Regions from separate parts of the Homo sapiens genome. Here region 2 is linked to region 1. Evidence: fine-mapped expression QTL. A gene starts in region 1. The other region holds a variant in brackets. All regions are shown on one strand. Distances are from middle to middle.

Region 1 (2,901 bases):
TGGGGAGTGGGGTAAAAGAAACAAACCTCTGCTGAGTCAAGGGCACTGCAAGAATGCAGAAGCGACCATGCAGCTCTGGAAGGATGCGGTGGGAAACCCGCCACTCAGTGGTGGAGAAAAGCCCACCAGTTTCTCCAGCAAATGGCTGAGCTTTGTTGGGCCTCCTTGTCTTCTCATCTGCCCATGTGTTAATATCTACTCGCCATTGGTTTGTTAGGTTCAAATGAAATCAGGGATGTGTCCCTTTTTGGCTGCTAGCTCTTCTCAGATCCCCTGACCTCTCCCCATCTCTTCTCTATGGCTCTGCGTGGGAAGGGGCAGTTGTCACCCCCGACTCCCACTAAGCTGAGCCCTCCTCCCAACCTAAGCGGGAGGAAGCCGGTTCTGCTCACGGATAAGAGTTACCGGGCTCCTGAGTTCTTGTTCTGCTGGGCCGGGGTCCACCCCCTCTCCTGGGCTCATCCGACTAGGACTTGGGAAGTGCTAGGGGAGCCAGGAGATGCCCAGCTGGGGGCTGTGGCCGGGGGGAGGCCAATGACAGAGCAGGGGGAACTCCCTGTAGCTGGGCACCCACTTCAACAGGGCCGGGACGACCCCCGCAGGCAGTGGGCCGCCCCTCACCCACACGGTCCTGCTCAGCCCAGGCTCACATCTGGGCTCAGGAGGCGGGAAGCACAGGTGTAAAGAAATCGCCAACTGTGCAGCCCCAATCCAAGGGTTTTATTAAAGTGGGGGCGGCGGGAGGGGGGCGGTGGAGGAAGGATAAGCGGCGCAAACGCCCTGGAGAGTGAGAGAAAAGGTGCGAGAAGGCAACAGCTCCCCTCACCGCCCTCGATTGCAGCAGAGAGCCTTCTGCACGGCGGCGGCCGCCCCACCTTCACACCGGCCCCGCGTGCGGTGAAAGTGGCCGAGCCGCGCCGCCGCCGGATCAGGGCCGCCCCGGCACAAACTTTCCCAGACCCGCCCTCGGAGCGGCCACCCAGGCTCAACGGGCTCCACGGGCGCAGGGCGGCTGGGGCTGCCGCGGAGGGCGGGTGCGCGTGGACCGGGAGGTGGGGAGGCGGCGCGCGGCGGGGAGTCCCGCCCCGGGTTACCTGGGTTCCAAGGGTCTCGGGAGTCCAGTGGACAGGGCGCGGGGACAGCACAGGCAGGCCGGAGACCAGACACTCCTCCCGGGCTGCGGCGACCCCGGACTCGCGGGCCCTGCACCTGGCCCTGCGGGTCGCCGCGCCTACCCATGCCGGTCCCCGCCCGTCCCCTCCCGCGCGGGGCGGGGCGGCCCCGGGGGAGGAGCCGAGGGCCGTGGGCACCACCCCCTGAGCCAGGCCTGCGCCTCATCACGTGCCACCGACCCTGGGCTCTGTGACTTCCAAAGACTCGCCACCCCATTCCACAGCCTGAGGTGCCACCAAAGCCATAAGCCCAGGGGAGTCTCTCACACCCCATTCTCCTAGGGCCCATGTACCCCACGCCCACCTCCACCCCAGGAGCCGAAGGCCGGCAGGGAGCCTGGAGAGCCTCCTTGATGGGAGAACTGCGGAGCTTGCCCCTCGGAAAAGTGCATGGGGTGGAGAACAGGGAAGGAGAAAAAAACAACAACTGGGTACTCGCAGCCCCACCGCGGTGTCCGCTTCGCCGGTGGGAGAGGATCCTCGCCGCCCTGAATCCTTGAAGTGAGTTCCACCCCTGTCTCTTGGAGTGCTCAGGGTGGCGGGCCCTTTGCCAGCCCTCACCCTTTCCCCAGGGATCCTGTCCCAGGTCACAGGCTCCTAGACTGGAAGGCGCTGGGCCTGGACCTCTGCCACTCAGTGGACACAGCTATAAGAGATGAAGGGACACAGAGGACAAAGAAGAAACATTTGGCTTCAGGGAACCAGACTCTGTGTCTCCTCCCAGGTGCTGAAGGAACAGGTTGCAGCTACCTGGTGCCCCCACCCCGACCCTGCCAGAGAAAGGTTGGAACATCCACACCTGTGGACCGAAGTCCCCCACCAGGCTCTTTCCTCCCACCCTTCAGCCCCAGGCTCTCTGAGCTCCTGCTCCTCCCTGCCTTGCCTTGTTTGCTGAGGGCACACACAGTGGAGAGAGCACAGGACTGGGAGTCCAGAGACCTGGGCTCTAGTCTACTCTGTGACTCGGGTCAAGTCTCTGGCCCTTTGTGGGCCCAAGTTGCCCCATTTGCAGTGAATAGGTTGCAGTCAATTATCTCCGGCCATTTTTACGGATCCTGAACCGTGGTCTTGGGCACCTTGCTTTATTAGGCTTTTTGGTGGCTGTGCATCTTGTAAGGGTGTGTATGCATGTGCGTGTGTGTGTGCGTGCGACATGCGCTTGTCCTCTCAGACCCAAGTTCTTAAAGGGAAAGAGACTGGGGCCTACACAGAGGCAGGCATGTATATTCCACAGACCAGAGTTTGACAAGAATGACTGGACACAAGAGTGGAGCCCAGTCCCAGCTCTATGCTGAATTCAGAGTAGCCTTGGACAAGACCCTCACCATCTACAAAATGGAGATTAATAATCCCTGCTTTGCCTTTCCAAGGCTAGTCGGGGGACTCAGTGAGATATTAGATATGAAGCTCTTTGAAGGGGAATAGCACAGGGATGTGTGCTTTTGATGTCTGGGCCAGTGATGGGTTTGGGGGAAGAATAGGGTGTGAAGCATTCTCTGGGAGGCAAAGGCTGGCACTGGACTGATTGGCCACCCTGCCAAAGCTGCAGCATGCACAGCACAGGCAGGCACCCCACCACCAGCAGCCAAGGTGAGCAGAGATGCCTGGTGCCCCACCTGGATTCCTGCCTGCTGTAGGTATCTGTGTGTGCACCTTGAAGAAACTAAAGAGGGAAGATAAAGAGGCTCCCAACCTAAATGGAGGTGGTCAGTGGATTACTGATGAATCG
Region 2 (2,901 bases), 82 kb before region 1:
CCACACTGTTCCTCCACTAAGAGTACAATCACTTTTCGGAATAGCTAGTCCCACAGCTGACTCTTAGCAGAGCCTAGATCTCTATGCAGAGACACTTCAAAATTCTTCACCAGGTCTGCCTGGCCTACAATCCACGCATGAGGTCCCGCCTGCAGAGCACCTCGCTTCCACAAATCACTCCTAGAGAGCTGGCTCCCTTTCTCACTAACTCCTCCAAGGGAGGAGACTCTACAAAGCTTTTCATATGCAGGAGCTGAAGGAACATTGCTAAATCCTTCCAGCTACACTTGTGGACTTTTTAATTTTGTCCCAGCGGGAAGTAAAGCTTAAGCTATTTGCTGTTTCTCAAAATGTATCCTTCAGTTATTTCAATTTTTCAGTGGTCCCATTTCCTTAGGGCATCTTGATCCAGACCTCCCCAAGTCCTTCCTGCTACTCTCTGTTGCTCAGTCAGGATCATCTCTGAGAGCCTGGCACCGTGTAGAAGTGCATAGGCAGTGCTGGAGGTGATGGGGGTGCGGCTCACCCAGCTTGGCTCAGCTGTAACATAGCAAAAAATCACCCTACAGGGATCCATGCATGGAGTGCAAGACCCACAAGCAGGGATGGACAGGCTGGTACCCTTTTAGCAGCTCAAATCTCAAAACAGCCTAAATCAACCATGATTCATCCAGAAAATGGAACACCAAGCAGATGTTCCAAAGTCCAGGAGACATGCAGATTGCAGATGCTGACAGAGTGAGATCTCCAAGGGAGGGAAGTAAGAGGAAGGCAGCAGGGAAAGAGGCAGATGCTGTGGATGCTCACAGCACAGATGCTCCTGGGTCCCCCAGAAAAGCTCCAGGAGGACGCATAGGAAGCAGGTCCCCCTGGCCACTCCAGGGAGGAGAACTGGGGCCAGTGGCAGAGCCTGACTCTATTCCCTTCTGAAGGGTTATAATTTGTAAGCATGTATACTTTTAAAAATGACAAATGGCCCCTGGAGCAGGGCTGTGCTGCCACCCCTGCCCAGTCCGCAGGCCCAGGGCTGCCACACTCCTTTACAGATCACCCTAGTCCACACCAGACTGAGCTCTCTCCCCTCTCCACTGAGCTGGCTGCTGGAACCAAACAGCCTGCCCCTGCATTTTGGCCCCGGGTCTGTCATCTGACTTCTACTCAGGCTGGCTGCCCCTGTGCGGGGAGCCTGGGCCCATCTCCACTCATGGCACACTCCTCATCTCTTCTCAACATGACTGGAGGGAGTCCAGTGACCAGCCTGTGCCACGGCGCCCCTGCATGACGTAAGGACGCCACCCCGTCTCTCGGCTGTGTCTACATCGACCAGTGGTGGTCTGAGTGGGACAGTGGCTTGAATGGCCTCTGAGTTCTTCCAGCTCAGATCCACTGTGATTTGGTGCTTTGACCCTGTCTCCATCCTCCATTCCTTAAGCAAAGGTGTGCAGTGTGTGACATTGGCCTTCATCCCCCACCTTTCTCAGCAAGGCCCCTCTTCGCTTCCCTGGCCACTTCCATTTCTGCATACAGGCTTCCCAGAGCTTTGCTCTTAGCTGGCTCCATCTACAGGCTGCCTGACCAAGTGCCTCCCAGTTG[T/C]CGTGGTTCCCAGAATGATTACGGAACACCCACAACTCTGTGGCAGATGCCTCTACCAATGTTTTCTCCCCAAACCCTCACAGCAACCCTTGGGGAGGTGCGGACCATCACTCCTGCTTTGCAGGTAGGAAAATGAGAGGCTCAGAGAGGTTGACTTGCTCAAACTAGTGACATTTTAACCAGGGCTCCTGGAAGACCTGGAAAGTCTCCAAGACCGGAGATGAAGGTAAATGCTATCATATCAGGCACCGGAGCAGGGAGCAGGAAGGACTGAGGCACTTTTGGGATTTCCCCTCAAATCTTACCCCAGTCCATGCCTTAAAGGTCATCCCAGTGGCACACCCAATGTCTCTTCCCTCTGTCACACACTCCCTTCACCCGCGTGTACCCACGGGGGATCCCCAAACCCCAGCACAGAATCTCAGCCCTCTCAACACTAGCCATGTTTTAAGACACCCTGGTCTCCAGGGCTCCTGAAGGAGACAGGCCGGTCGAGGGGGCCAGAAGGTACCAGAAGGGCAGCAAGTGAGTCCAAATGTTGAGAGTCTCATTGGTCATTTGGAAAAGGCTGAGGATGCAGGCAGTGGCAGAACTCTGTGGATGGCGGTAGCCGAACAGGATGCCTTGCTCATGGAACACCTGCAGAGGCAAAGGAAAAGGACACTGAGGTGAGACCAGAGGGTGGCACGAAGGTCTCTGGAGAAACATCTTCCAGGCCGTGCTCTGTGTGCCTGGAACGCTTGACCCCAAGTCCTTAACCTGTTAAGCTGTTCCCCTCACTCTCTCCTTCCCTCGCAGTAGCTTCTAAAATCCCTTGTCCTCCAAGAAGCCTCCAGCTAGCTGGGGGAGGGAATTCAAGGGCCAGGCTCCCTTTGGGAATCCAGCCTGTCTTTGCATTCCCCGGCGTACTTACTCTTGGCATGAATCTTGCCTAAGAATCCGTTTTCTCACCCCTCTGCCTGGGGCCTACAGCCCAGTTTTTGGACGCCTTTTTGGTGAGCTGACACAGATGCTGTCTGTCTGAGCTGGCAAGCCCTGCATGTCAGGGGCTGGTGGGAAGAACTCTGCAGAAGATGCCCCCGGTGCCAGGATATATTCACCAAGGTGCTTCATAAAGGGCTTTTGATGATGAGGACCACGATGCTGATGCCTGGGCTGCAGGAAGAGGAGGTGGCTGCCCACAGCACGGCTGCTCAAGTCACCCCCACCCCCATGCAGCCCATTTGGCAAGTCCCCCCCAAAAAACACCCACTGAGAAACCCGGACTGGTCAGGTGAAATATGGGGTATCAACCTGCCTGGAGTATTG

Direction of the effects. Alleles are on the strand shown, and positions count from the first base shown. SD is a standard deviation of normalised expression in the study named.
For the expression in testis of the gene that starts at base 1,239 in region 1, C is the high allele of the variant in region 2 and T is the other (large effect, 1.2 SD a copy in GTEx).

What was found. PIP is the estimated chance that this variant, and not a neighbour inherited with it, causes the effect. A credible set is the group of variants that fine-mapping cannot tell apart.
Region 2: its variant is the best candidate, but not a certain one, in a credible set for the expression of PAQR5 in testis (GTEx, PIP 0.88).

The regions. Positions count from the first base shown.
Region 1 is chr15:69,297,250-69,300,150 of GRCh38, reverse strand. PAQR5 (progestin and adipoQ receptor family member 5) reads right to left here and starts at 1,239. Exons shown (of 9, transcript NM_017705.4): 1 at 1,095-1,239. It overlaps PAQR5-DT (PAQR5 divergent transcript), which reads left to right and starts at 1,388. Exons shown (of 3, transcript NR_184010.1): 1 at 1,388-1,673.
Region 2 is chr15:69,379,214-69,382,114 of GRCh38, reverse strand. PAQR5 (progestin and adipoQ receptor family member 5) reads right to left here. Exons shown (of 9, transcript NM_017705.4): 4 at 2,105-2,232. Among named protein-coding and RNA genes, the nearest start is that of KIF23, 34 kb to the left of the region's middle. RefSeq lists a silencer at 445-626. The variant T/C (reference allele first, on the strand shown) is at 1,594.